7 linked regions of the Homo sapiens genome follow. The protein of the gene in region 3 purifies or fractionates together with the protein of the main gene of each other region. This does not show direct contact. Each region holds a gene or a part of one and is shown on either strand. Other genes may lie near its edges. The genes, in order: CSRP1, PPP6C, MYO10, KRT85, FBXO45, NIPSNAP1 and EZHIP.

Region 1 (4,159 bases), on a different chromosome or scaffold from region 3:
GCCTAAGATGAAGGATGCCGCAACCCCTCACATGAACCTATTTCCAAAAAAAAATGTGGCCTTCCACGGACTTGCTGTGGGGGCCCTAACAGCACAGCAGGCTGAGCCAGGCCCCTCCACCACACCCCTCCTAGGTAGAAGTGAGCTTTCTAGATTTGACGTGAAAGTTCCTCTGGTTGAGTTTCCCTCTTAGGCTGGGGCTTTCCGAGCTGGGAGAAGTTCTGAGCACAGTTTTGGGGCCTAGCTGAGCCCCTCCAAGTCCAAAGTCCATGCAATTCCCAGGCCCAGATTTGGGGGTGGAGACCAGACAGGACAAGCCAGTGGTGTTTGGCTGGTCGGGTCACTTCAGACAGTGTGGTTCAGTTGGCATTGATACTGAGAAGTAATTGGTCCTTAGAAAAAGCAGGAACGAATCCACTTTGATTCATTTCCACCAGGCTGCCTGCTTTTTTTTTGAGACAGAGTTTCACATTTGTTGCCTAGGCTGGAGTACAATGGTGTGATCTCAGCTCACTGCAACCTCTGCCTCCCGGGTTCAAGCGATTCTCCTGCCTCAGCCTCCCAAGTAGCTGGGATTACAGGCACCCACCACCATGCCTGGCTCATTTTTTGTATTTTTAGTTGAGTCAGAATTTCACCATGTTAGCCAGGCTGGTCTCAAACTCCTGACCTCAGGTGATCCGCCTGCCTCGGCCTCCCAAAGCCCCTGCTAATTTGATTGCTCCCATTGAGTTCCCTCCCAGCTCCACAGACACAGGATTGGACACCAGAGTTCTGGTCTAAACAGCTTTATTGACCAGATGAGAAATCAGCTTGGGTACAGCCCATGCCTGCAGCCCTTTCAGTGGGTGGCTCCAGATAGTGTTGTCCTTTCAGTTGCTGGGAGCGGTGAGGCCCAGCCCTTTCCCCTTCCTCCCACCACTATTCCTAACCTGGGGCCTGGCAGGGGTGGAGTGATGTGATCTAAGGGTCCCTGGAGAAGGGTGGAGTGGAAGAGGCAGGGTCTTGGGTTAAAGGGAAGATTCTGAGGTCTCAGGGCAAAGGGAAAGGTGTTTGGATGAAGACTGAGGCAGTGCCTACCTCCCTCCACATCTGAGGATCAAGCAGGTGTGGCAAGAACAGAGCCCTGGCCTGGGCTCTGCTGGCCGCAGCCTCAGGAGCCAGGGTTAAGGCCAGAGATAAATGAAGATTTGAGCCATTGATAAATGCCAATATATGTTTCAGGTATTTCATTAGGATCCTCCCATCAAGCAGGGAACTAGATGTTTGAGAAGATCAAACAACATCCTGACTTTGGGGTCCTTAAGACCTGGGTTATTCTCCTCCCAGTCCTAGTGGGAGGCTATCCATTCCACAAAGACTCAAAGGCAAGAGGCCTGGAGAAGCAGGGGCTCCTAGGACCCTGCCTGCATGCCTCTCTGCCTCCAATAGTGACTCCCTAAGCTGGGACTCCTCAGGCTTACTCTGAGGGACACCAGGAAGCTCAACCTCTTTCCCACAGAGGAGAATCTCTGAGATCCAAAAAACCCAGCCTTCCCCCCTCCTCATCTTGGTCTTGCTTCCCTCTCCCTCCAGCCTGTTGCTGCTGCTCCTCTGGGTGCCAAGATGTGTCCTCAGGTGTCTTGGTCAGCTGATGATGGACACGCAGCACAGGAGGCTAAGAACAGAGCTCTGTGGGGCGAGGTGTGGGGAGAGGGGCCTGCTCTCACCTAGACCCAAAACACTGAGGTCTCCTACTGGTGATGGTGTCAGATCCCAGGCCTGGGGAGCCCTTTAGTGGGGTGGGACCTCAGGCAGACCCCCAAACCAAAGGGAGCCAGATGCCCAAGTTCAAGTCATTAGTGATATGTGGCAGGGCTGACAGAGAAATAATCCTGGAGGTCTCCAAAGCTGCTGGGAATGGAATGGCGATGAAAAGCGCAGGAGTGGGCAGGGTGTGGTGGGTGATGGTGGCCTCACTCAGAGTGGACCAAGGCCCCAGCTCCTTGCCCAAAACCAAAGCCCTTGGGCCCGAAGTTTTTAGCATAACATCCTGCAGAGAGAGGAGAGAGATAAGGGCATGTTCTTCCTCCACCCCCAGCCACACCACCCACCCTCCTGCTGAAGATCCCCCACTCCTAGTGCCCAGCCAGACTGCTAGGGAAGGAAGGTCCACTGGTACCCCCTCACCTCCACAGCACCCCAATCTCAATAGTAAAATAGCGAAGAGGCTCTTGGTTGTACCCTGTACCCATTGCCCCTGCCACCAAAATTATAGAAGCATCATCTGCTGTAAGAACATTGGACTGGGAGTTAGGAAGCCAGGGTCTAGCCCTATGCCTGCCTCAATTTGCCAGATGATGCTGGCCAAGTTGCTTTCCCCCTCTGGTCTTGTTTCCTCATCTGTACAATGAAGGAATCATACTAGATGTTCAGATCTTGGATCCCAAGGCCAGGAATTAGTTTACATTCAGCAAAGGCAAAACTACTTAGCCCCCCTACCCCCTTGGGCCTCCTGACCCTCAATTAGAAGTGAAAACACCCACCTTTGCAGTAAATCTCGCCATCCTTGTCTGCCAGGGTGGTTGACTCAAGGCCTTTGCCACACTTGGCACATCGAAAGCAGGCCTTATGCCAGGACTAGGCAGGGAAGGAAATAGTTAATGGCTGCCACCAGTGATGAGGGTACCCTCCACCCCAGGCCCACTCCCTTTGACATAACCATGGTATAAGGGCTCAAGCCACTTCTGAAGTCTACTCAGCTGGTGCTGCTGGGAGGACATGGCCTATGGTGCAAGGCAGTAGAGGGAGAAGGCCAGGGACCACACGCCACCTCGCACCATCTTCCATGCTATGTTGCAATGGCCTGATGATTAGGGTCACCAGCTATACCACAAAAGGCAGGTGAGGGGGTGGGTTTAACACCAAAGTAGCTGTTACCCCACTGGCTGGGCCAGATGAGCCTTCTCCAGACCCATCTTGCCAGTAGATCAGTGGTGTGAGCCAGGGCTTTGCACTCCTCCTGGTACTGTCACTTAGTACTTGAACAGCCCTCACCAGAAAGACCTCTCTGCCCTGTGTTGCCTTGGGGCCTCTCATAGAGACCCAAAGGGTCTTCTGTGGCCCCTGGAGAAACTACTCCTTAGGACTTTCCCTGCTGAGTTTAATGCATTTCATAGACTTATTCTCCTTCCAAAGTGATACTAGACAACATTGACTCTGGCTTCCTCTGTGCCAGGCCCTGTGCCAGGCACTTTACACTGGTGAAGTCAGTTAGTGTTCACAGCTACCCAGTGAGGGACATACTGCCACCCTCCCCTCCAATAGCTGATAGCCTTTGGGCAAAGGAGGCACCTAATTCTAGAACTTCAGAGGCTGGGCTGGTCCAGGAGAATCCAATTACAAATACCTTCTCTGTGGCCAGGCATCATATGTTTAAATATCTAGTCCTCACATGCATTCTGTAACACAGGGCAAACAGCTGTCCCAGAAAAAAAGTGAGGCCCGAGTTTGTACACAGTGATGGGACGTTGCACAGACAGACTTCTCCGCAGCCAGTTCCCATCAACAGCTGGGCAGGCTAAGAGGCTGATGTGTAGACAGCTCTGCTTAACCCAGGAAAAGCAAGAGGCAGGCAGCAGTCAGATAAGACAAAACAAGGCCTTTTAAGGGCAAAGACACTCCCAGTGCCCAGGCTGGTGGATGAGAAAGGAAATTCATCCCCTCAGATTTCCTGGTTGCCTAACCTTGCACATTGGCTTCTCCTCCAGAGAGCTGAAATGGGGGGACCTGGGTCTAGGTCAGTGCTGGTGCAACCTCAATAGTCACCCAGCCTTTGCTGCCTCCTCTGTAAAGCAGGGGCTGCTACCCCAAGCTCTCTAGGCTGGAGAAAAACTGAATCACACCTAGACCAACACCTCTCCTCATATTTCCTAGCCACCTCCCTGCCAAAATAAGCTGAATCCCTTTGCTCATTCATAAGCACCCAAAAGTACTCCCAGCTCAACATTTCTTGAGCGAGGCAATAGAAAGGTGGGGCTTCTCCCTACCTTTTCCACTTGAATGCAAAATTCTCTTATCCTACTCCTTAGTACAGCCCTAACTTTACCTTATAGCCTGCCTAAGTAATGGAAATAGTGATTCTTAGCTATTCTTAATAATTTTCTATTCTCATAATGAG
Region 2 (3,524 bases), on a different chromosome or scaffold from region 3:
AATTACTTACACAAAGCTGAAATATGGTATCACAGACCTTTGCAAAAAAGAAGAACTTGTTTCTTTTTCTACACTTTAAATAATCTGCTTCAGATTACAGTTCACAAATACAAGAGTCCTAACTTTTCAACCTTTCCAGTTGCAGTTTAAAAATGAACACTTTCTAAAAGTTAAGGTCAAGTGTTACAGCAAGAGAAGAATGATTCCTATTGAAAAGCACATAGATTTTAGTTAATAATACTCATGATAGATTGTAAACTGGATTGATCACATTCTACTCAACTGGTATCAAATTAACACATCAGCATTACAAGTATTAAATGTTTTTCTATTACTATAGAGGATATAAACCAAAACATTAATATGGCAGTTATGTTCTTTAGGCACAGTTTAGTGATTTTTTTCAAAAATAAATACTATTGAATTTCAATTGAAGTTTTAAACTCAATAACCAAAGGGTCAAGAACTCTGATTAGGAAAAAAGAAAAGATAACTTTACGCTAACAATGTAAGCTGTTTAAAATTTCTAACACTTAACCTATCTGAGTTTTATTTAAGATTACTTTATTAAAAAATACAAGGAATCTGAAAAAAGATCAATACAATTATCTTAAAGTACAAAGTCATAAGCTGTAGCAGTTTTTAACTAAAATTTAAAAACACAACAAGGAGGGCAGCCCTTTAGACCAATTTATTTTATATCCATTTAAAATATCATCCAACAAAGGACAATGAAGTTTACATCTGGGACAGGTATACATAACTTGAGGCATTTGGAGTCCATCGTGCCCACTGAATAACAACTTTGCTGCTGAAATTTCTTAAAACTTACCAAACTAAAACAAAAGGCTGAATGATACAAAAGGAGGAGTATTTAGGTGTAATCTGTCAATTGGCTTTTAAAAAAAGGAAACACATCCTGTTTCCCAGACCAGTAAATAAGCAAGAGCTACATGCAGCAGTGTGAGTATTAAGACATTTCTCAAGTCTTCTCAAATGAGTCCAGGGTGGGGATGGGATGGGGGAAAATTGATAGAAAAACTTTGCTATAGACACCACAACAAACAATAAATTTAGATAATTTAAAATTTAAAAAAAAAAAGGCAAGAGGCAGCATTTCAGCAGCAAAGTGCTCAATAAAAAGTATATTGTAGAGGGTAATACAAGAAAATTGGGGTAAGAAGAGGGCAGAAAAATGGGTCAGCAGGATGGGCGAAGGCCTCAAAGGAAATATGGCGTTGTCGTTCTGGGAGGAATAACACGTTCTGAATCTGGAACTGCCCGGAATAACTTTGGTTCTCTTGTATTTACATCTTTGAAGACCATGATCGAAGCAATATTTCCACAACGATAGCAGTAATTAGGAGCAGACCATACTGTCACCAGCTTCTCATCAAACATAAATTTATAGCCTTCGTGCACTAGTTGATGTGCTCTGCAGATGAGTTTTAAGTTGTTGATATGAACAAACTGCAATTTAGAAAGGCACTGTAAGTACTTAGCACTTAAAAAACAATCGGCCTACATAATCATTTAAATAAAATACCAAATCCTATTACTACTAAAGGCATCAAGATTATAGAACGCACTCTATAATTATCTCCAACAATTTAATAAGTTTAGGCAAACAGCAATTTTGGCCTGAGTCAAGTGCACAACTATGGAAACTGTACAGCTACATAAACAGTTAGAAATTTCTGGAAGAAAAAGCATTCAATAGGTACTATGAAACAAAATTTTGTGTTTTCTGATTTAATAATAAAGATATTGCTATCAGTATCTACCATTTACTGAAGGTTTAGTATATGTAGATGTTGCAATAATTCTGAAAGAGATTATTCTTTTGCAACTTAAGGAAACAAAAGCTCAGACTAGATAAATAACTTATCTAAATTAAGATACACTGATGCAGGATCAGAATCTAGTTTTTTGACTTCATTATGATGCTGGAGCACTTCCCAATATAAGGGGTGTGTGTGTGTGTGTGTGTGTGTTTTAATTGAAAACAGTTGAAAGTTCAAAGTGTGTGTGTGTGTTTTAACTGAAAACAGTTGAAAGTTCAAAGTACTGCCTATCTTGAAGATGGCGGAGTAGCATCGCAAAGAGATTAGTATTGAGTCTCTGGGCCGACTTTGGTTGCAGTCTCTGCAGCAGCAGTGATCACTTAGTGAAGAGTGCTTAGGGTAGTTGGCCAGGATCCTGAATATCAAAATCTTCAGCGGCAGCTCCCACCAGGGCTTATCTCAGAAAACTGCCGATCGCCTGGGCCTGGAGCTCGGCAAGGCAGTGATTGAGAAATTCAGCAACTAGGAGACCTGTGTGGAAATTGGCAAAAGTGTACGTGGAAAGGATGTCTACATCATTCAGAGTGGTTGTGGCAAAATCAATGACAATTTAATGGTGCCTTTGATCATGACTAATACCTGCAAGACTGCTTCAGCGAGCCAGCTTACTGCAGTCATCCCATGCTTCCCTTATGCCCAGCAGGATAATAAAGAGTCAGGTGACAATCTCAGCCAAGCTTGTTGCAAACATGCTATCTGTGGCAGGCGCAGATCATATTATCACCATGGACCTACATGCTTCTCAAATTCAGGGCTTTTTTGATAACCCAGTGGACTATCTGTATGCAGAGCCAGGTGTCCTGAAGTGGATAAGGGAGAATATCTCTGAGCAGAAGAACTGCACTATTGTTTCATCTGATGCTGGTGGAGCTAAGAGAGTGACCTCCATTGCAGACAGGCTGAATGTGGACTTTGCCTTGATTCACAAAGAAGGCCAATGAAGTCGACCGCATGGTGCTTGTGGGAGATGTGAAGGATCTGGTGGCCATCCTTGCGGATGACATGGTTGACACTTGTGGCACAATCTGCCATGCAGCTGACAAACTTCTCTCAGCTGGAGTCACCAAAGTTTATGCTATCTTGACTCACAGAATCTTCTCTGGTCCAGCTATTTCTCACATCAACAACGCATGCTTTAAAGCAGTAGTAGTCACCAATAACATACCCCAGGAGGACAAGATGAAGCACCATTCCAAAATACAGGTGATCAACATCTCTATGAGCCTTGCAGAAGCCATCAGGAAAATTCACAATGAAGAATCCGTTTCTTACCTATTCAGTCATGTCCCTTTATAATACAGTAACTTCTGAGGCTTTTTAAGAATAAAATCCACCCCACCCCTTGTTTTCCCTTGGTATTTGATGACGAATTCAGCAGAAGACCCAGCTTGCTCCAGTGTAGCTTTCTATATCCCACATCAGGTATATCTGAGCTTATCCGAAATGAAGAAAGAAGGATTGAGATTAACTGCTGGGACTTCCTATCTGCATTGTCTCATTCTGGCTTCCTTGATGATTCTGTGAGCCTTGCAGCTTTAACTATAGCTCAGCTGTTACAAGATTTCAGACTTTTGAGGATGTTGTGTGGGGGTGTTTGACTGTGACTGGAGAAGCTCAGACTACTCTGCATGTGAATGCTTCAGGGTTTTCTTTGTTGAGAACAACCAGCAGCAAAGCCAA
Region 3 (4,159 bases):
CCCTCTAGCTTGGGTAACAGAGCAAGACCCTGTCTTAAATAAATACCTAAATAAATAGATAAATAAATAGTAAATAATTTTCCAAAAGGAGTGTGCCTCAAGGCCCCTAAGTGTTAAGGTTCAGCAAAGTATACTCAAATGTTAGTAACAATCAAAGCATACAATGCAAATGCTCATCATGAAGTAGGTATGGTGAGCAGTTCAAGCCAGCAGTGGGCCTCAGTGAGATCTTCACTTTCCCCCATGTCTAGCACATCCTTTTAGGCTCTCTAATATCCCTGGCAGGAGAGAACATGCAGTTTTTTTTTTTTTTTTTTGAGACAGCGTCTGGCTCTGTCGCCCAGGCTGGGGTGCAGTGGCGCGATCTCGGCTCACTGCAAGCTCCGCCTCCTGGGTTCACGCCATTCTCCTGCCTCAGCCTCTCAGGTAGCTGGCACTACAGGAGCCCGCCACCGCTCCCGGCTAATTTTTTGTATTTTTAGTAGAGACGGCGTTTCACTGTGTTAGCCAGGATGGTCTCGATCTCCTGACCTCATGATCCACCCGCCTCGGCCTCCCAAAGTGCTGGGATTACAGGCGTGAGCCACCACGCCCGGCCGAGAACATGCAGTTTATCATGAGAATGGGTCTCGACCAATTCCAGCAGCAGCAGCAACACACACATTGGTTTGTATGTCTGTATATATGAGAGAGAGCAATGAGACTGAGACAGAGAGGGAGACAGTGAAAGAGAAAGTGGGAGAGAGAGGGAGAGAAAATAGAAGGATGAAGAAAGAGCTAAGAAAGGAAAACGAGACAGGGAGAGACAGGGGAGAAGGACTGATACTGGAGGCAGTGGTTGCAAATGCTTCGTCCTGCCACTCTGCACCAAACCAGGGGAGTCACGACTGTGTTCATGCTGGTAGGACCACAGCACCCATGTCACACCAACATGACAAGGTGTCCCTTCATTCATCTAAGTGGCCCAACACTGAGGTAAGGGTAGGTAGAACGACTTTCCCAGTCCCCATCCATCAGCCCAGATACAATAACACCTCCGTTATTTCCCACCGCCATCCATCAGCCCGGATAAAATAACGCCTCGCTCTCCCCCTAACCCAGACTCCATGGCGGCTGCAGTCATACCTTTCATGTACAGAAAGCTGTGGAAATACGGCAGAGTGACACAGCTGTACACAGAGTCACGCCGGTATGAAAGCTCATCATCTGTATCAAACCTGGAATCAAAGTCCTCTTCACTATCTTCAAACTGGACCGAGAGAGAGAAGCCAACGGTGAGGGAAAAGGCCACAAAGCAAGCCACGAAGATACCCAGCATGTATCATCATTGAAAAAATACAAAAATACAGCTACTCAAGAGGCTGAGGCAGCAGAATCACTCGAACCCAGGAGGCAGTGACTGCACTGAGCAGAGATCGTGCCACTGCACTCCAGCCTGGGCAACAGAGCAAGCCTCAGTCTCAAAAAAAAAAAAAAAAAAAAAGGGAAAAGGAAAAAGAAAAAAAACAACTGACAAGCAATACGCCTGATTTACGGTAGCACACAAATAATTCGGAATTAAAAATACCAACTTTTAAGGTCAAATGGTCAGTTGAATTGATACATGAAAGACAAGATATACTTGAATCCAAAGGCTATCTGCCCTAAAACTAACAATGCTTTTTAAGGCTATAATTTTAATCAAACCATGCAAGAGTTCACCCCCTCTGAATTACTATATTAAATATATTTTCAAATCTTTGAAAGTCAAGAGAACATTCAATGCACGACCAAAGCGACAAAATAAAAGTAAACTACAGATAAATCCAGAAACTGGAAAAGAGTACATTTAAGCCCTGCAGCTTCTTCCTTTACAGCCACTATAAGAAATAACATCGTGTGGTTTGGATTGTGAAGTTAGTACAAGGAAAGTTTGCCAGTTCACCCCTGGCAAGTCTTGTTCCAGTTCAGGATGTGTCTTCATTTCCTAACGCAGCACGGCAAAGCTAAAAGTTCCATTCAAATTGTAAAAAAAGGGAAGGAAGAAATAAAATAAAATAAACAAAAGTTCCATTTAAAAAGCCAGTTTTAAGCCGGGCATGGTGGCTCACGCCTGTAATCCCAGCACTTTGGGGGTCCGAGGCAGGTGGATCACCTGAGGTCAGGAGTTCAAGACCAGCCTGGCCAACATGGTAAAACCCCATCTCTACTAAAAATACAAAAATTAGACCGGTGTGCTGGCGGGCATCTGTAATCCCAGCTATTCAGGAAGCTGAGGCAGCAGGATAGCTTGGACCCGAGAGGTGGGGACTGCAGTGAGGCAAAATCCTGCCAATGCACTCCAGCCTGGATGACAGAGAAGACTCCACCTCAAAAACAACAACAACAACAATAAATAAATAAATAGCCAGTTTTCTGAAGTCTTGGGCACAGCTCAGCTCTAGGCTTTGTGCTAAAACTGAAACAGGCACATCAAAGTTCTACTTATGAATGCAATTGGCTTATGGAATAAGCAAAAGGTTTAAGATGATCTCTAAGACCACGACTCTGCAATCTTTGCACAGATATCCTACGGGTATCTTCATTCAACTTGAGGATGCAACAGGGGTGGGTGTGACCGGCCACCCATTTCACTGGGACACGCCAGGCAGGTACTTACCGAGGACTGCGCCCCCTCAGAGCTGAACCGGTAGGCACCCGAGCTGTTGTAGGTCCCCACAGAGCAGCGGTAGTCGGGGGACCACTGGCTGCCGTAGGAGTTGGAGAAGGTCACGCTGCTGCCGGAAGTGATGGCACCGTCCTCATAGTCATCCTGGTCGTAGTCGTAGTCGCCGTCTGGGGAGGGCAAGTCCCCAGCGTTCTGGGGCATGCAGTAGGTGGACTCGCCGCTGGAGGAGTTGTGTAGGCTCCCGGAGTCCTGCACTGATGGGGCGAGCAGCACCGTGCTGTCCGCACTGGGGCTGGTGGGCACCACCGTGTCGTTCATGTATGGGTCCTCCTCTGAAGAGTCATCGCTGGTCCGGATGCCACTTGTTCGCTGGTCTGAGTGGCCGTGCTCGCTGGGGTTGGGGGAGTCCTTGAAGGCGTCGTCGTCGGCTTCGAAGCCCTCATCGACCTCCTCCTCTGGGTAGGGCTGGCTGAAGTTGAAGTTGGGCTTCTCCTCGCATGCGCTCTCAGCCAGCTCGCTGGAAAATTCGCTTCCCACCGACAGGGACCGCTCGATATTCCGGACACACTCGTCGATCTCGTCGAAATTGAGGGACTCGAGGAACTCCTGGGCCGCCCTGCACGCTTCCTCCTCCAGCCTGCGGAGCTCCTGGTCCCGCCGCTCCTGCAGCTTCTGCAGGGAAGCCTCGGTCAGCGACAGCTCCTGCTGCTCCTTCATGCGCTGCAGGTCCTCGATTTCTTTCTCCAGACGGAGGATCTCTTCCACCTGCTTATTTTCCTTCTGTTTCTCCAGTTCACGGGTCAGTTCAGCTTCCTTCTGGCTCTTCTGCAAGGCTTCGAGTTCTTGCTGCTTCCTCGTTTCTTCTTCCTGGACAGAAGCAGAAGGGAGATTTCAGAAGGCTTCAGTACAAAAGTCCAAGCATAGCTCCCGCTTTGCAACCAGGATGAAATATGGTCATTATGAGTTGGACTGTGTCCCCATAAAGTCTATAGGTTGAAGTCCTAACCCCAATACTGCAGAATGTGACTGCATTTGGAGATACAGCTTTTAAAGGGGAGACTAAGTTAAAATGAGTTCACTAGGGTGGGCCCCAATCCAAGATGACTGGTGTCCTTTTGGGAACAGGAGACTAGGTCACACAGAGAAAAAAGGCTGCGTGAGGACACACTGGACAGACGGCCACCTGCAAGCCAAGGGGAGGGGCCTCAGAAGACATCAAACTTAAGGATAACTTGATCTTGCAGTTCCGGCCTCCAGAGCTGGGAGAAAATCAGTTTCCACTGTTCAATCCACCAGTCTGTGGTATTTGGCTGTGGTGGGCCTAGCAAACTAACACGCTGGTTATACCGATTTAGAGAAATTATACTCTTGTGATGCACACTAAAACCTCAGCCATTCACTACGCTTTACCCAATTGTAATAGGTCAGAAATTGGATCATAAACACATCCTCTTAAATTGTTCTTCCTGTTATCTTTCTACTTTAATTCAGTTTTGAATCCTAGAGTCCAAG
Region 4 (3,147 bases), on a different chromosome or scaffold from region 3:
GGCCCCCACTGAGGAGCCAGGGGAGGGTGAAACAGTTGGGGGAACACTCGAGGCTCCATGGGTTAGGCCAATGAGTTCAGCTTTTCTATCAAAAAAGCCATTTTTCCAGGAGAATTTCAGGCAGATACTCACAGACATTCACAGAGCCCACACCTTCACACAGCCTATGGAGAAAGAAAACTCTGTTAGTTCCAGACACTGAGTTGGATTCCTTGAGACTGATGGTTGCTTGGGGACAGAGAGGGTCATCCTGTGTACAGAGTCTACCCCTGAAAGGCAAGAAGGGCTCCCTCAAATCTGCATTAAATGCTTTCTTTCTTTGATGGTTTTAACCATGAAGACAAGGCTTTCTGATTTTCAGCAGCAGTGGGTAAGATTATGAACAGTGCCCCTAGTTTGAGTGATGGTGGCCAGCCTGGATGGTGCCAATCAAGCTCACAGGAAGGAGAGTTGAATCAGATACACCAGGGTGTGAAGGGGCTTTGTGGTTGATGAAGAGCTAAATGCATATAGAAGTGCATCATCATCATAACACACAGGCCTGTGTGGCAGCAGCTTCAGTAGGAAGCTATTCAACAAGGACGGATTTGGGAGGCATGAGACTTGGGTGCAGGTCCCAGCTCTTCTGCTTATTAACTGCGTAGCCATGATAAAGGCACTGAATTCTGAGCCTGCTTCTTTATCTAAAGATAAAAAGATGGGAAAAACCATATCTATCTTATTGGATTGTGAGGATTATAAAATAAACACTTAGCACAGGTCTAGCACAGAAGCATTCAGTTATTATTATTATTATTATTGAAGCTATTGTATTAGCCATGGCCAGAGTTGTAGCTCACACTCAGCTCAAGGAAATTCACTCCTGGAGGACCACAGCCTCCACCTCTGAAACCCCACAAAGTCCTCTTAGCCCCACCTGTGTTCCTCGCCCTCCAGCAGGCGCCTGTAGGTGGCGATCTCGATGTCCAGGCCCAGCTTGGAGTTCATCACCTCCTGGTACTCCTTGAGCAGGCAGGCCATGTCCTGCTTGGCCTTCTGCAGGGCGCCCTCCAGCTCAGCCAGCTTGCAGCGGGCATCGCTGAGGGCCGCCTCACCCTGCTGCTCTGCCTCAGCCACAGCAGCCTCCAGCTTGGCACGCTATCAGGTGGAGATACAAGGGCCAGGATGAGAAAGAGAAGCCACAGCTTGGCTCACCCAAGCTGATGGAGCCAGGGCAGGGAGAGGAGGGTCCTGGAGAGAAGGTTGGCCCGTGGCCAGGTAGTTAATGGGGCTGTGAATATGAGGGAGGAGATGGGTGGGCTTTTCATCATCTCTCCTTGATGGCGGTCACAGGGTGGCCAAGGAAGGGGCTGGATCCTCCTTTGGAAGTCAGTGACATGGTCTGATTGCTGTGAAATATGATAGAGCCCCTCCCTTCCCTCTGGGTCCCTGCTTCCTCATGGGCACACTGTGAAGCCTGATTAGGGCCAGGTGCTGCAGCCTGCCTGTGCTGCGTATTTGAATCCTCCACAGACCCCACCTGGCACTTGGCATTCTCAATCTCGGCCGTCAGCCTCTGGATCATGCGGTTCAGCTCGTTGATCTCCTCCTTGGTGCGGCGCAGGGTCTCCCCATGCCTGATCACCGTGGCCTTCATCTCCTCACACTGGAGGAAGTAGAGATGCTCATGAGGCTCAGGGTGGGGCCCCCCATCCATTCAGGACACCACAGATGACTATACAGGTTGTACGGTGCTCAGCCTGTGCAACCACACATGGCAGTCCTGCCCTGCCACTTCAACCTGAGAACTACTGGCTTTTCTCATACTGTCCTCATGGGTCAGAATCCCCAGGCAAGAGAAATCTTTTCTAATAGATGCCTAACTTCCCTCCCACTGCCATGCTTAGCAGGCAGGTGTCCTGTGCCACTCACCTTGCTACGGTACCAGGACTCAGCCTCGGCCCGGCTGCGGCTGGCAACATCGTCATACTGAGCCTTGATCTCAGCGATGATGCAGTCCATGTTCAGGTCTCGGCTGTTGTCCATCTTGACTATGACCGAGGTGTCTGAGATGTGGGCTTGGAGAACGCGGATCTCCTGTGGGGCCAACAGCCAGTGCATTTGCTTCTAGTGCCTGATCTGGGCCACGTGATCCACCCCAGGGGACAATGTCCACTTCCCAGACCGGGCACTGGTCATGAAGGTTACATGACTCCTGCTCCTACCACCTTCACTCATGCACAGGCTCCTTAAAAACAACAAAGCTGAAAGGGGCTGTAGAGGCCATCTGGGAACAGTGTCTGCCTTAAAAGTGGGAAAACTGAGGCCCAGAGGGTGAAAAAGATCTGGTCCAAAGTCACCCAGCAGGGGAGCTGGGGTTTGGAGGCTAGGATGAGTGATTAGTCAGTCCATTAATGAGGACCATGCCCTATGTGCGAAGCCATCCTGACCCCCACCACACATGCACACTCTCTTGCCCATCTGTAGACTGGCACTCACACAGGCAGCACACCAACATGCAGAGAGGTCACAGACACAGAGCAGCCCAAGAACATGTACACCCCATGCTCCTCTCACACATGAACGTGGACATGGCCTCTGTATTGTGGGCCCCAGCACGTATGTGCAAGCTCTTTTCACACTTACATTGCACATTGGCAAACATAGGCACACACATGCACCCTTGCCTCACTGCTCCCCTGTCTCCAAAACACCCCTCCACCTGCCCTGGCTGGGTGGCAGTTGCCCCCTTACCTCTTCATAGAGGCGCCTCAGGAAGCTAGACTCCTCCACCAGGGCCTCCACATTGGCCTCCAGGTCTGATTTCCGCAGGTAGGCACAGTCCACGTCCTGGCCGTGGGACAAAGAGGAGGGGACATGCATGTGAGAGGAGACCAAAGAAAGGTGCCTTTGGTCAGCATGGTGACCCTGCCCCTCGCTGGAGTTTGCACTGATGGGCCCCCTCCTCCTTGCCCCATGACCAGCCCCTCACCTTCTTTAGAACGACAAACTCATTCTCTGCTGTGGCTCTCAGGGCCACCTCCTCTTCATACCTGGGTGTGGGAGAGAGAAGGTCTGGAGCTGAGAAACTGGACCTTGAATACCATCCCAACTCCTGGGCAAGTTCTTCCGGGGATTGAAAAGGGATTAATCCCCTCCAGATGTTGT
Region 5 (4,559 bases), on a different chromosome or scaffold from region 3:
TTAGTGAACACATTAAATAAGAAGCAAACAGTTCGAGGGAGGATCCAAAAAAGAAATCAGGACAACAGACTGGTAAAGCTGTCTCTGGCGTCTCTTTCCACTAAACAAAGCGGCAAATACAGAACATTTACACCTATTTTTCTTTTATAAAATTTAAATGCTTTGGGCTGGGCACGGTGGCTCATGCCTGTAATCCCAGCACTTTGGGAGGCCGAGGCACACGGATCACCTGAGGCAGGGGTTGCAATGAGCCGAGAGCACATCAACTGCTCTCCAGCCTGGGTGACAGAGCAAGACTTTGTCTCAAAAAAAAAAAAAAAAAAAAAAAAAAAAAAAAAAAAAAAAAAAAAATTAAAATGCTTTGAACTTTAACATATCAGCCAACTTGTTTAGCAACATCATCAACTGATTCTCTTTTAAGCTTTTGGATCACAGGAGCCGTGTATTCAGCCAGTTCAGGAATAGCATGCCTGTCTCTCATAATTCTTGGCAAACAACTGCATTATCAAACAAATGTCAGCAGGAGGGTGGGGTGGGGGGCGGTAGAGGCAATTGGGAAATAAGACCCTAGTGAATTACTGTTCTCTGTCCACTTTCCATTCTAAACATGGGGAATGTGGATTCTATTATTAAAGCCATGGAATTTATAGGTAAATTCCATCACCACCTCTGGCTATTAAGGCACCCCAATTTTTCTTTCTAACCAATGTGTAAAAAATGTCTTTAAATGTAAGCAATCACAGGTGGTTAATGTTTAACTTTTTATTAAGAAACTAAGGCAAAACAACAGAATTCCAAAAAATAAAGATACAGAATTCTAATTTAAATTCTAAACAAATATAAAAATCAGAGTTTACCAGTATTTTTGAGTAGAGGGGAGTGGCTAAATGCATTCACAGTAATTATTTCTTCCTTACCAGCCTCAAGTTTGCAACCCTTTCCTTCCTGCTTCACTGGGACTAGAACAGAATTTCTCATTCATCTTTTGCTACTATAATTTTTGCTTCTATAGTCTAAAACTTCAGAGGAGCTTTTGTCTTTCTCCGCAGTTCTTTCTCTGTTCCTTCAGCAAATATGTGAGCACCTGCCTATTGGGCTTACATGTTGTGGCACAAAGATGAGTCCGTTAGAGATCCTGTCCCAGTTTAGGGGCGATATGACACCAATAAATAATCAATAAATAATTTTAAACAAGGTATAAATAAATACAGCATGAGTCAACTATAGATATATAAAACTAGGGAAATTTCAAGGAGAGATTACATTCAGCTAGAGAAACTGAGGAATGTTTTTGAGGACAGCATTTGGGCTGGGTGTGGGCTGTTCCTAATAAAGGCTTCCAAGTGGTCCTGATTATCTACCACAGTCCCAATTGTGGAACTGTGGTGGTCTCAATTTCTGGAAAGTAATCTTTTCAATGCTAACCTTTAAAACTCCTTAAATTTCTGGCCTGGCACGGTGGCTCGCGCCTGTAACCCCAGCACTTTGGGAGGCGAGGTGGGTGGTGTTGGCCAGGAGTTCAAGACCAGCCTGGCCAACATGGCATAAACCCCCTCTACTAAAAATACAAAGATTAGGCCCGGGAACAGTGGCTCATGCCTGTAATCCCAGCACTTTGGGAGGCTGAGGTGGGTGGATCACAAGGTCAGGAGTTCGAGACCAGCCTGGCCAACATGGTGAAACCCCGTCTCTATTAAAAATACAAAAATTAGCCAGGCATGGTGGCAGGTGCCTGTAATCCCAGCTACTCGGGAGACTGAGGCAGGAGAATCACTTGAACCCGGGAGGCAAAGGTTGCAGTGAACTGAGATCACACCACCGCACTCCAGCCTGGGCAACAGAGCAAGACTCCGTCTAAAAGAAAAAAGAAAAAAATTAGCCAGGTGTGGTGGCACATGCTACTCGGGAGGCTGAGGCACGAGAATTGCTTGAACCTGGGTGGCAAAGGTTGCAGTGAGTCAAGATCGTGCACTCCAGCCTGCGTGACTCTGTCTCCAAAAAAGAAACACACACACCACTCCCTAAGTTTCTATCTCTTCAAATTACTCACTTCTTCAAAATAACAAAAAAAAATTAATATTAATATGACAATCTACATAGTTTGGGGATTTAAAAGTTAAAGCTGGGTATAGTGGCATACACCTGTAATCCCAGCTACTTGGGAGGCTGAGGCAGGAAGACTGCTTGAGCCCAGGAGTTCAAGACCTGCCTAGGCAGTAGAGTGAAACCCTGTCTCCAAAAACAAACAAAAGTTCATTATACAGTAGTAGTTTCTTTATGGTTTAGGGCTCTGCTATTTTTGAAACTCTTTCTCCAGTCAAATAATTCTAAAAGGCAGAAAATGCCTAATCACTGAACAATGATTTTAAATATTAACTGGGTAAATCTTACTTTCTTTTGGTGTCTTATTGAATCCATATCTACACTTTATGTGAATGAGGGAGATGAAATAAATGGCTTAACATTTAAGTCAAATAATGAGAAAATAATGGCAACTATGAAATGACATTAACCACAAATTCCTTGTATGAAAAGATTTAATGAATTATGAGCCATTGATCATTACAAACTTTAAGCCTTAATATTTCTTCTTTCCTATGTAAAACCAGGTAATTAAAACAGCCTGTCTCAGTATGACAGAAGACCATAGTAGGGATAATAGTAACGTCTGCTTCCACATCTGCATGCTTCGTTAACCAACCAAAGAAAGTGCTCCAGGTTTCCCAAGTCAACAAAGTATACTCAGTTACACTTTCCCTGATCATACTATGAATTGAAACAGAACACTCCTTTGACTTTTAATAGCACTTTTCATCCACGGCACAAGCACTTTCCCATTATTTTCTCCTTTACCCTCAATATCCTTGTGAGGTAGTGAAGGGAGGGAGCAAGGATTTTTTTTTTTCTATTTTGCAGATGAGAAAACTCAAGGTGAATTTTACAACAGTGGTTCTCAACCTTGGCAGCATATTGAAATGACCAGAAAGTTTTTAAAAATCCTTATGACCAGCTCATATTCCAGACCAACATCAGAATCTTGGCATACGGAACCCAAGCATCGATGTGTCTTCCAACATTCCAAAGTGACTACAAAGTGTATACAGCCAACACTGAGAACCACTGGTTTGAATGATTTACACTCAATCTTCAGGCGCAACTGTCTTCTACCGAAATGCTCTCCTCAGCACCAATGACAAAGATATTCCATCTCCTTGAGCACTGCAGCAGTTTAAGATTTTGTAGAGCTACTACTGGGTTTTAGTGACAAATTTACGTAAATGAAGGCCCTCATGACCCAGATGCTCATGCTGCTCACTTCAATTGCATATGATTTGCGAATGGGACATTCGGGAATTTAAATCTTTGAGATAAGAATGGCTTGTTGTTAAATATTGAGGCAATTATTTCATTCTAGGTCCAATACGCAATAACCATGTGTTTCGGTTTTCCACTCAGCACCTTCAAAACTGTTGCAAATGAATGTTTACTAACAAGACAAAAGAGACAATTATAAACCAAACTCTCAACAAAATTCGGAATGGCCACATCACAACCTGAAAAAGAAACAAGTACTTAAAGGACTTGATCACTTCCTAACAAGTCCATCTTCAACCTGAACCACTTCTCTTGTTTAATCAAATTTTAAACTTTGCCGAACTGAGTTGTTCTACACCAAGAAAAATCAATTTCTATACCACCTACATTCTCTAATACATTTAACATATAATTTCACTCAATACAAGGAGGTTTCTTCTTAACCTGGACATCGAAAAGAATCTTTAACAGATTTCATCTTTTCAAGCAATGTATCAAATACACAATAAATACTTGTAAACTTTTCAGGTGGCAACAATAAATCTTTGTTCTATGGCTGAAATCCCTTGCTTCACAGGAGTATTGACAATCTTAACTCCCAAGGAGCAATCCAAGAATCCCGGCCAGCTGCTGGGTGTCCCTAATCAGATTTAAAACAAAACATACATACAGCAAGAACTCAGAAGTACAAAGATTTCGCTCGCTTTTGTCAATTCTTATGTATCTAAAACCATACAATTTATACTTTCATACAGAAAGATGTCTGTTTCTTTTCTAACAAAAGAAAAACTCTCAGCTCATGTGGGTTGGATTATTAATTCAAAAGCATTTTAGTGATGAGAAACAAGATTTGTAAGTCAAAATAGGAGTTAATGTTAAACTCTTCTACAACGAAACCTTCAAATATTGCCAACCTGAAGTTTTCAGCACAAGGTGTTGTATTTCAAGTCCCATGGGGGCAATTATCTATAATGAGATTAAGAATATTCTTAACCTGTTTCAGCTGGGTAAGTAAACGTTTTCTTTATAGCCCCAATAACGAGTTTGAGGCTTAGATTAGTTGCATGATGTAAACAATATGAAATTAAAATTTTTTTGATAATATCTACAGCATTTATAAGGTTACAAAATAAAAGGACCATTAATCAATTCTTTTTTTCCTAGGCTCTATGACTAATAGCTTTCATATTTGAGGCCTACAAGAGCAAATGGCAATGTTCTGTGTTATGAGACACTTTCTTAGA
Region 6 (4,600 bases), on a different chromosome or scaffold from region 3:
CGATCTCGGCTCACTGCAACCTCTGCCTCCAGGGTTCAAGAGATTCTCCTGCCTCAGCCTCCCGAGTAACTGGGATTACAGGTGCCCGCCACCATGCCTGGCTAATTTTTTTGTATTTTTAGTAGAGACGGGGTTTCACCCTGTTGGCCAGGCTGGTCTTGAACTCTTGACCTAAACTTCTGATCCACCTTTGCCTCCCAAAATGCTGGGATTACAGGCATGAGCCACCATGCCCGGCAGCAAATTTATAGTTCAACTTTGAAACAAAGATAACAGCCCTCTCCCAAAATAAACCCCTTTCTTGCCTGGGGACCAGACTGCTTTTGTAAGACTAACAAATTAGCCACGAGATTAGAAATTACGGTTTAGGAGTCATGCAGGTAGTGGCCACAGATTCTAAACCTCCCCAGTTGCTCCTAGGGATAACATCACTACTGTAAAACCTAAGATTGGTGCTCAAGATATTTTTCCGATCCTGCACTCAATGGATCCGCTGGCGATACACAGATTAAGAAACCGGATCATCCGGTTTTGTGGCCCCCACCCAGAGATCCACTCAGCACAAGAGGACGGCTTCCACTCCCTATGATTGCATCTCCGACCTGACCAATCAGCACTCTCCACTCTCTGGCCCCTACCCACCAAATTATCCTTAATAAAACCCAGTCTCCGAATTTTCAGGGAGACTGATTTGAGTAATAATAAAACTCCGGTCTCCCATTCAGCCGGCTCTGCATGAATTAAACTCTTATTGCAATTCCTCTGTCTTGATAAATCCGCTGTCTGGGAAACGGGCAAAATGAACCCATGGGGTGGTTACACTGACCCTCTGCTGCACATCCCGGACAGCCTTGTTAAGAACCCTTGGTAGGCTGGGCATGGTGGCTCACGCCTGTAATCCCAGCACTTTGGGAGCACGAGGCAGGCAGATCACGAGGTCAGGAGATCGAGACCATCCTGGCTAACACGGTGAAACCCCGTTTCTACTAAAAATACAAAAAATTAGCTGGGCGTGGTGGCAGACGCCTGTAGTTCCAGCTACTCGGGAGGCTGAGGCAGGAGAATGGCGTGAACCCAGGAGGCGGAGCTTGCAGTGGGCCGAGATCGCGCCACTGCGCTCCAGCCTGGGCGACAGAGCGAGACTCCGTCTCAAAAAAAAAAAAAAAAAAAAAAAGAACCCTTGGTATTATTGTTCCACGCTCCCATTTTACCGAGGTGGATCCTGAGGCCCAGAGTGGGCAAAGGGCTTGCCAAGGTCGCAGAGCGCGCAGAGGATTAGAACCCTGACTTCCGTCCAGCACCTGCGGAGTTGGAGACGCCCACAGGAAACGCCCACCTGACCGGGTGAGTGAGGGGGCGGGCGAGCCGGAGGGGTGGAGTTTATTCGCGCCCCGCCTCCGCCACCAGGGCTTGGGGGCGGGGCCTTCCTGCAACCTTTGCGGCTCCAACATGGCTCCGCGGCTGTGCAGCATCTCTGTGACGGCGCGGCGGCTGCTGGGGGGCCCGGGGCCTCGCGCTGGGGACGTTGCGTCTGCAGCTGCGGCGCGGTGAGAGCCCGGCCAGGCAGGGATAGACGCGCGCGGGGTGGGGTGCAGGCGCGGGGGCCAGGGACTGGGTCGTGGGGGAGGGGCTGAGACTCCTCGCTTGGAATCTGGGGGTTAGAGGCGGGGCAGGATCAAGGCCTAGGGAGGGGTCTGGGCAAAGAATGGGGGAGGTGAGAAAGGGATGGGTAGGGTCTTTGTCCTGGTTGGGACCGGGCTGTGATGGGGACCTGATGAAAGATGGTGAGAAGGGCAGGTACTGGGCCCTGGAGAGTGGGAGAGGGCAGAAGACAGGAGGAGTGGCCCATTCCCAGGCGTAGCTTGTGATTTAACACCCACTGGGGGCTTCTGGTAGTCAGCTCCTCCGTCGGGAAGTTCTGTGGGAAAGAGATGATGGCAGGGGAGCAGTGGGGGATCCCCAGGGGCCATGGCTGCACAGACCCTTTGTTCCTCCACCTCGAACTGTACAGGTGGGGAAACGGACCTGAGAGGGAATGGGAGTTGTCCAAGGTCACCCTCCCTGCTGTGCCGTGGCAGCACCAGGTCTGGGACCCAGGCCTGCCAATGCGCCATGCACTTTGCACCCAACTGGTGGCCTCCTGGGAGTGGGAGTCTGGCTGGGCCATGTGCTCTCAGCCTGGGCTTTTGTTTGGGCCCTGCTCTGGGCTGAGCTAGGGCTTGGCCTCCCTGACTGGCCCTGGGCAGCCCCTCACTCCTTGGTCCCCACAGCCCTGTACTTCCCCCATCTCTGCATATATGACCCTGCACAGTTATGACTTGGTGCTTGTCTGTCTCTCTCACTAGACCATGATCTCATTTTTCTCTGTTTCCCCAGCCTCCCACCCTCAGAGGGCTCAGGACTGTGTATGGTCAAGGAATATTTACCAAAGAAGTGAGGCCACCTGTTCCCCCTCCCCCAACCTGTGAAAAGGAAGCAACCATCCCTCCTGCCCTGCAGCCCAGGAATGAAGCTGCAAAGTTCTGATAGTGCCTGCCATGAGATGTTACAGCACAGAGCAGTGGGGCTTTTGGACAGCTGGGAAAGAGGAGTGGCATAAGCGCCCCACCTAGACTGCCCAATAATTAGGGATAAAGCTGACACCGTGGGAAAAGCCTAGAGTTTGCCTGGCACTAACAGATCTAACTCAGACTTTGTAGGTGGGGTGACCTCAGGACTCTTTAAGCCTCGGGTTCCTCATCTGTAAAATGGGAGTAATCAGGATGTATCTCATAGGGTTGTTGAGGATTAAAGATGCTGTGGTTGGTCGGGTATGGTGGCTCATGCCTGTAATCCCAGCACTTTGGGAGGCCGAGGCAGGCAGATCACTTGAGGTCAGCAGTTCAAGACCAGCTTGGCAACACGGCGAGATCCTGTCTCTATAAAAAGTACAAAAATGGCCGGGCGCGGTGGCTCACGCCTGTAATCCCAGCACTTTGGGAGGCCGAGGCGGTGGATCACGAGGTCAGGAGATCGAGACCATCCTGGCTAACACGGTGAAACCCCATCTCTACTAAAAATACAAAAAATTAGCTGGGCGCGGTGGCAGGCGCCTGTAGTCCCAGCTACTCAGGAGGCTGAGGCAGGAGAATGGCGTGAACCCAGGAGGCGGAGCTTGCAGTGAGCCGAGATCCTGCCACTGCACTCCAGCCTGGGCGACAAGAGTGAGACTCTGTCTCAAAAAAAAAAAAAAAAAAAAAAAAGTACAAAAATTTCACCATGTTGGTGAAAACGTGTCTCTACTAAAAATACAATTAGCTGGGTGTGATGGCTCACCCCTGTAATCCCAGCTACTAGGAAGCTGAGGCAGGAGAATCAATTGAACCCGGGAGACAGAGGTTGCAGTGAGCCGAGATCACGCTACTGCACTCCAACCCGGGTGACAGAGCGAGACTCCGTCTACAAAAAAAAAAGATTCCGTGGTTGTGAAGTGTCTAGCACTTGACGAACATGCAGTAAGTGTTGCTCCTTAACCCCTAGCCTATGTTTCAAGCAATTTCTGCATGTGACCCACATAATGTTGAGGCTCAAAGGGCTCTGGGAAGATCATCTTTTATGAGCCCTTTGTTTTCCAGATAAAAATATCAAGATTGGGGAAGGGACAGAATGGATTGGTGGTAAAACCATTTGTGTGGCAAACACCCAGAGGCTGTAAAAGGAGCATGGGTCTCAGAGTCAGCCTGCTGCCCCTCACTCAGTGACCCTGGATGAGTTGCTGAACCTCCGTCAGCCTCAGTTTCCTTTTCTGTAAAGTGGGGATGTTGGTGTTTTCGGCAGGATTGCTATGAAGCCACTTGAATTAATGTTTATCAAGTCCCTCAAGGACTGTCTTGCAGTTACTTATACCTTAATTCCACATTGGATACCTGAGAACACTCTGTCCTGCTGCCCCTCAGGCTGCCCCATATCTCTCCAGAGTCACTAGTAGGGCCAGCAGCAGCCCTTCTGGCCTGTGAGGTTTGGGGGCAATGAGGCTGCTGGGGTGGGGATGGAGTGTGGGCTTTGAAATCAGATGGACCTGGGCCAGGCACCATTGCTCACGCCTGTAATCCCAACACTTCGGTAGGCCAAGGTGGGAGGATTGCTTGAACCCAGGAGTTTGAGACCAGCCTGGGCAACATGGCGAGATCCTGTCTCTATAAAAAATACAAAAATTTGGCCAGGCACAGTGGGTCATGCCTGTAATCCCAGCACTTTAGGAGGCTGAGGCGGGTGGATCACCTGAGGCCAGGAGTTCAAGACCAGCTTGGCCAACATGGTGAAACCCCATCTCTACTAAAAACACAAAAATTAGCCAGGCCAGGCCTGGTGACTCCCACCTGTAATCCTAGCACTTTGGGAGGCCCAGGCAGGCGGATCATGAGGTCAGGTATTCAAGACCAGCCTGGCCAACATGGTGAAACCCCGTCTTTATTAAAAATACAAAAATTAGCTGGGCATGGTGTGTGCGCCTGTAATCCCAGCTACTCTGGAGGCTGAGGCAGGAGAATCGCTTAAACCAGGGAGGTGGAGGTTGCAGTGAGCTGAGATCGCACCAGTGCACTCCAGCCTGGGTGATAGA
Region 7 (4,386 bases), on a different chromosome or scaffold from region 3:
GGAGTTTGAGACCAGCCTGGCCGACATGGTGAAACCCTGCCTCTACTAAAAATACAAAAAATTAGCCGGCCATGGGTGGCACGCGCCTGTAGTCCCAGCTATTCGGGAGGCTGAGGCAGGAGAATTGCTTGAACCCGGGAGGCAGAAGTTGCAGTGGGCCGAGATCATGCCACTGCACTCGAGCCTGGGTGACAGAGCCAGACCCCACCTCAAAAATAAATAAATAAATTAATTAAGTAATTAAAATAATTACAAATGTTCATAGACTTGTACCAAGAATTTTCTCTTCTGGGAATTTATCCACAATGACACATTTAAGGATATGAACAATTTTTAATGAGAAGGATGTGTCTCACAATGATGTAAAATGTTGGAAACAGCATAAACGGTGGCCAATATGGGAATGTTTGAAAATGTAAACTTCTTTTATAAATGGAGTATTTTGTAATTTAAAGTGGCCTCGTAGAAATTTGTTTACTGACATAGAAAATGTGCTTTCTGGAACCCAAAGCAGGTTACAATGCAGTATCTATGGAGAAACTATTCCATTTCATAAAATAAAAAATTTAAAAAACTATGAAATATGTATGAATAGGGCCTTTCTACCAAAGTCTAAGTAAAAATTTCCAGCACTTTCCCATGGGTGCCTGAGGACTTAGGTGTAGTTTTCTTACATTTGCTTTTCTGTTTTGAGTACTGAACATGACACCTTTTGTAATAAATAATGACTAAAAATGAGTGGCCAAATATTAAACTTCAAGTCTATACATTACAGCATATTTATATTAATTAGGAGCTAGAGACCACACTAAATAAATTAATATATGTTCATCAGCGGATTACTACGCAGCCCATAAAATATTTAAGGACGGTGTCACCCTTAACCTTAGGCAATCCCTAACTGTGCCTTGGGGGAAAAGGCACAGTTCTAAATCCCCCTCTGGTGTGTGGGACCTGAGGTGTGTGGGACCTGGGGGAAGCAGCAGTGCTGAACATCCGGAGGCAAGACGGTGTGGGCCCCTTCCCTTTTCTCGCCTTCAGGCCTCTGTATAACCCTAAAACCCACCAGACCCCACATGGGGTCATCTAGATGCCTGGAGGAGTTCCAGGGTGGTCCCTTCGGGCGTCATGCCTGGTTTCATTGTCCTGACCGGGTGCGAGGAGGGACACCTGGCCAGGAGATATAACCTGCCGGCCAGTGTGGCATTTCTTTCAAATGACCACTTAAGCCTCAGCCACGATTTGGGGTGACTCAAATCGTTCATGTGGAACACACACACACACACACATATACACACACACGTGTCTTAGGGACGGACACACACAAACACGTGTCTTAGGGGCCCCGTGTGAGGAGAGGAGATTCACACTACTGACCCAGCAACCAGGGTCGACCCCAGAGGGCTGGAGCACACACTCCGGGTTGACGATAGGCGCCTGGCTCTGGGTTGCACGGCTCCGGATTGGACGGCTCCCGGGAAGAGAGAGGAGTCATCTGACGTCCAGCTCGCCAATCAGAGTCGAGGACTGGCTGGGCTCCACCCACCTTCTTGCTCTACCAGTTCGCGCTCTCCTCCGGCAGAAGTAGCAGCTGCGCTCTTGCTCTCTGGGGGAGAACCTGGCGTTATGGCCACTCAGTCAGACATGGAGAAGGAGCAGAAGCACCAGCAGGACGAGGGGCAGGGAGGGCTGAACAACGAAACCGCCCTTGCCTCCGGGGATGCCTGCGGGACCGGGAATCAAGATCCTGCTGCTTCCGTCACCACAGTCTCCAGCCAAGCATCTCCCTCGGGCGGCGCCGCCCTAAGCAGCAGCACAGCCGGTTCTTCCGCTGCAGCCGCCACCTCCGCCGCCATTTTCATCACCGATGAGGCCTCGGGGCTGCCAATCATAGCTGCTGTGCTGACGGAGAGGCATTCTGACCGCCAGGACTGCCGCAGTCCTCACGAAGTTTTTGGGTGTGTGGTGCCCGAGGGGGGCAGCCAGGCCGCTGTGGGGCCCCAGAAGGCCACTGGCCACGCCGACGAGCACCTGGCCCAGACCAAGAGCCCCGGGAACAGCCGTCGTAGGAAGCAGCCCTGCCGCAACCAGGCTGCCCCGGCTCAGAAGCCTCCAGGGCGGCGTCTGTTTCCTGAGCCTTTGCCGCCATCTTCTCCAGGGTTCCGGCCCAGCAGCTATCCCTGTTCCGGGGCTTCTACGTCGAGTCAGGCAACCCAGCCAGGCCCTGCACTCCTAAGCCACGCATCTGAGGCAAGGCCTGCTACCCGAAGCCGCATCACCCTGGTAGCTTCTGCTCTCCGCAGACGTGCATCTGGTCCAGGCCCTGTCATCCGAGGCTGCACCGCCCAGCCAGGCCCTGCTTTTCCACACCGCGCCACTCATCTAGACCCTGCTCGTCTAAGCCCTGAATCTGCGCCAGGCCCTGCCCGCCGAGGCCGTGCATCTGTGCCAGGCCCTGCCCGCCGAGGCTGCGATTCTGCGCCAGGCCCTGCCCGCCGAGGCCGCGATTCTGCGCCAGTCTCTGCCCCCCGAGGCCGCGATTCTGCGCCAGGCTCTGCCCGCCGAGGCCGCGATTCTGCGCCAGGCCCTGCCCTTCGCGTCCGCACAGCAAGGTCAGACGCCGGTCATCGCAGCACCAGCACGACGCCAGGCACTGGCCTCCGGAGCCGTTCCACCCAGCAAAGATCAGCCCTTCTCAGCCGCCGCTCTCTGTCTGGGTCAGCTGATGAGAATCCTTCCTGTGGGACTGGCTCAGAAAGGCTTGCCTTTCAGAGCAGATCAGGCTCTCCTGATCCTGAGGTCCCAAGCCGTGCTTCCCCGCCTGTTTGGCATGCAGTCCGTATGCGTGCCTCCTCACCCTCACCCCCTGGGAGGTTCTTCCTTCCCATCCCTCAGCAGTGGGATGAGAGCTCCTCCTCCTCCTATGCTTCCAACTCCTCCTCCCCGAGTAGGTCTCCTGGCCTAAGCCCCTCATCCCCTTCCCCTGAGTTTTTGGGCCTGAGATCTATCTCCACTCCTAGCCCTGAAAGCCTTAGGTATGCTTTGATGCCTGAGTTTTATGCTCTGAGCCCTGTCCCTCCAGAAGAGCAGGCAGAAATAGAGAGCACAGCTCACCCCGCAACACCGCCTGAGCCGTGACCCTCTATAAGCATCCTCTAAGACCCACAGAAGGAATCAACATTTACCCACTTTGTGAATGGGCTGCCTGCCCTGTAGTTAGCTGCGAGGTCTCCCAAAGTTCCAGCCGTTAACCAACATCCTGAGTAGTTTAGAAGCCTCTCCTCCCCATGACTCCACCACCTAGCACTTAACCTGCTGTTGGCCTTTGATTCTGGGCCACCTTCTTCCTCAAGAGTTTGCCTTTGCCCTTGAGCTGAGATTTCTGTTTTCCAAGTTGCTTTTCTGTTATGAAATGTTTTAATTAGTAAAATAAATTGTTTTGTTTAAACAAAATGTAGAGGTGTGTTTTTTTATTGCGGTTCGAAAAATCGTTAATCCTATATCATATTTGGAGGGTTAAAGAAAGTTGTTAACATACTAGCTGACTCTTTGGACGAGAGAAGAAATAAAATACTGTCCTAGCAATAATTTATTCCCACTGGCTGAAATGGAGTTCTGTGCAGGAAGTTCCCACTTAGGTCTATATACCCTCTTAGCAGAGGTGATTTGCAACTTGGGCAAGAAAAGGGGCCAGGGTCTAACCCAGGTGGCTGGAGAAAAGGAGGGGTGATGGAGACATCCAGGGTCAGGAAAGGAGCAGGGAATGATGAAGTTTGGGATGAGAGGTAGGGAGACGATAACCCAGATGGGAGTAGGGAAGCTGGGAGGAAGATCCAGAGTCAGGAAATGGGGAACAGCAGGAGTCAGAAGCTTGAGAGGGGAATATCTTAGATTCTAAAGGATAAAAAAATGTTTATGTGTGGGGAACGGGCTCCTGAGGTCTTTGGGGGTGGGGAGAATGTGGGAGGGTGATTTGGGGCTAATAATTGATGGGAAAATGGTCAGACATTCAGTGGAAATACGTGTTAATCGATAATGTTACTGTAACAAAAATAATTGTAACTGAGTTTGAGCAGATATGTGAGGGTGTGTGTGTGTGTGTAGACATTTGGAGAGAACTACATGGGCATACACCATGCTGTGAACAAGGTGTATATCTTTTTTTTAATAACTGGTGATATGGTCTTCTATAATCTACAAGTTCCACATTGACCATATAACTATTTTTTTAAATTAAACTCCGCTGTTTTTTGAAAATTTAAGTTGTAGAAACATAATAGGAGAGACTACATTAAAAGAACAGAGTGAAAAAATATAAAGCAAACCAGCAAAAGAAACTCCCTTTCCCTCCTTTCTCATATTTCTCCTCTCCTTTGCTATTCTGGT

The links.
Region 1: the proteins of MYO10 (region 3) and CSRP1 purify together in Homo sapiens (affinity purification with mass spectrometry, with the first as the bait; one large-scale study listed by BioGRID). This does not show direct contact.
Region 2: the proteins of MYO10 (region 3) and PPP6C purify together in Homo sapiens (affinity purification with mass spectrometry, with the first as the bait; one large-scale study listed by BioGRID). This does not show direct contact.
Region 4: the proteins of MYO10 (region 3) and KRT85 purify together in Homo sapiens (affinity purification with mass spectrometry, with the first as the bait; one large-scale study listed by BioGRID). This does not show direct contact.
Region 5: the proteins of MYO10 (region 3) and FBXO45 purify together in Homo sapiens (affinity purification with mass spectrometry, with the first as the bait; one large-scale study listed by BioGRID). This does not show direct contact.
Region 6: the proteins of MYO10 (region 3) and NIPSNAP1 purify together in Homo sapiens (affinity purification with mass spectrometry, with the first as the bait; one large-scale study listed by BioGRID). This does not show direct contact.
Region 7: the proteins of MYO10 (region 3) and EZHIP purify together in Homo sapiens (affinity purification with mass spectrometry, with the first as the bait; one large-scale study listed by BioGRID). This does not show direct contact.

What each region holds. Positions count from the first base shown.
Region 1 is NC_000001.11:201,482,758-201,486,916, forward strand, and holds the end of CSRP1 (cysteine and glycine-rich protein 1), read right to left. Parts: intron 2,620-4,159; coding exon 2,526-2,619; intron 2,033-2,525; coding exon 1,956-2,032; 3' UTR 773-1,955; downstream 1-772. UniProt on the Homo sapiens protein: Could play a role in neuronal development.
Region 2 is NC_000009.12:125,148,452-125,151,975, forward strand, and holds part of PPP6C (serine/threonine-protein phosphatase 6 catalytic subunit), read right to left. Parts: intron 1,471-3,524; coding exon 1,222-1,470; 3' UTR 1-1,221.
Region 3 is NC_000005.10:16,698,325-16,702,483, forward strand, and holds part of MYO10 (unconventional myosin-X), read right to left. Parts: intron 3,515-4,159; coding exon 2,639-3,514; intron 1,250-2,638; coding exon 1,126-1,249; intron 1-1,125. UniProt on the Homo sapiens protein: Myosins are actin-based motor molecules with ATPase activity. Unconventional myosins serve in intracellular movements. MYO10 binds to actin filaments and actin bundles and functions as a plus end-directed motor.
Region 4 is NC_000012.12:52,361,335-52,364,481, forward strand, and holds part of KRT85 (keratin, type II cuticular Hb5), read right to left. Parts: exon of another isoform or gene 3,087-3,147; coding exon of another isoform or gene 3,033-3,086; coding exon 2,972-3,032; intron 2,830-2,971; coding exon 2,734-2,829; intron 2,077-2,733; coding exon 1,912-2,076; intron 1,646-1,911; coding exon 1,520-1,645; intron 1,138-1,519; coding exon 917-1,137; intron 165-916; coding exon 133-164; intron 1-132.
Region 5 is NC_000003.12:196,585,248-196,589,806, reverse strand, and holds the end of FBXO45 (F-box/SPRY domain-containing protein 1), read right to left. Parts: 3' UTR 748-4,559; downstream 1-747. UniProt on the Homo sapiens protein: Component of E3 ubiquitin ligase complex consisting of FBXO45, MYCBP2 and SKP1. Functions in substrate recognition but also plays an important role in assembly of the complex.
Region 6 is NC_000022.11:29,577,932-29,582,531, reverse strand, and holds the start of NIPSNAP1 (protein NipSnap homolog 1), read left to right. Parts: upstream 1-1,418; 5' UTR 1,419-1,449; coding exon 1,450-1,547; intron 1,548-4,600.
Region 7 is NC_000023.11:51,405,391-51,409,776, forward strand, and holds EZHIP (EZH inhibitory protein), read left to right. Parts: upstream 1-1,557; 5' UTR 1,558-1,626; coding exon 1,627-3,138; 3' UTR 3,139-3,453; downstream 3,454-4,386. UniProt on the Homo sapiens protein: Inhibits PRC2/EED-EZH1 and PRC2/EED-EZH2 complex function by inhibiting EZH1/EZH2 methyltransferase activity, thereby causing down-regulation of histone H3 trimethylation on 'Lys-27' (H3K27me3).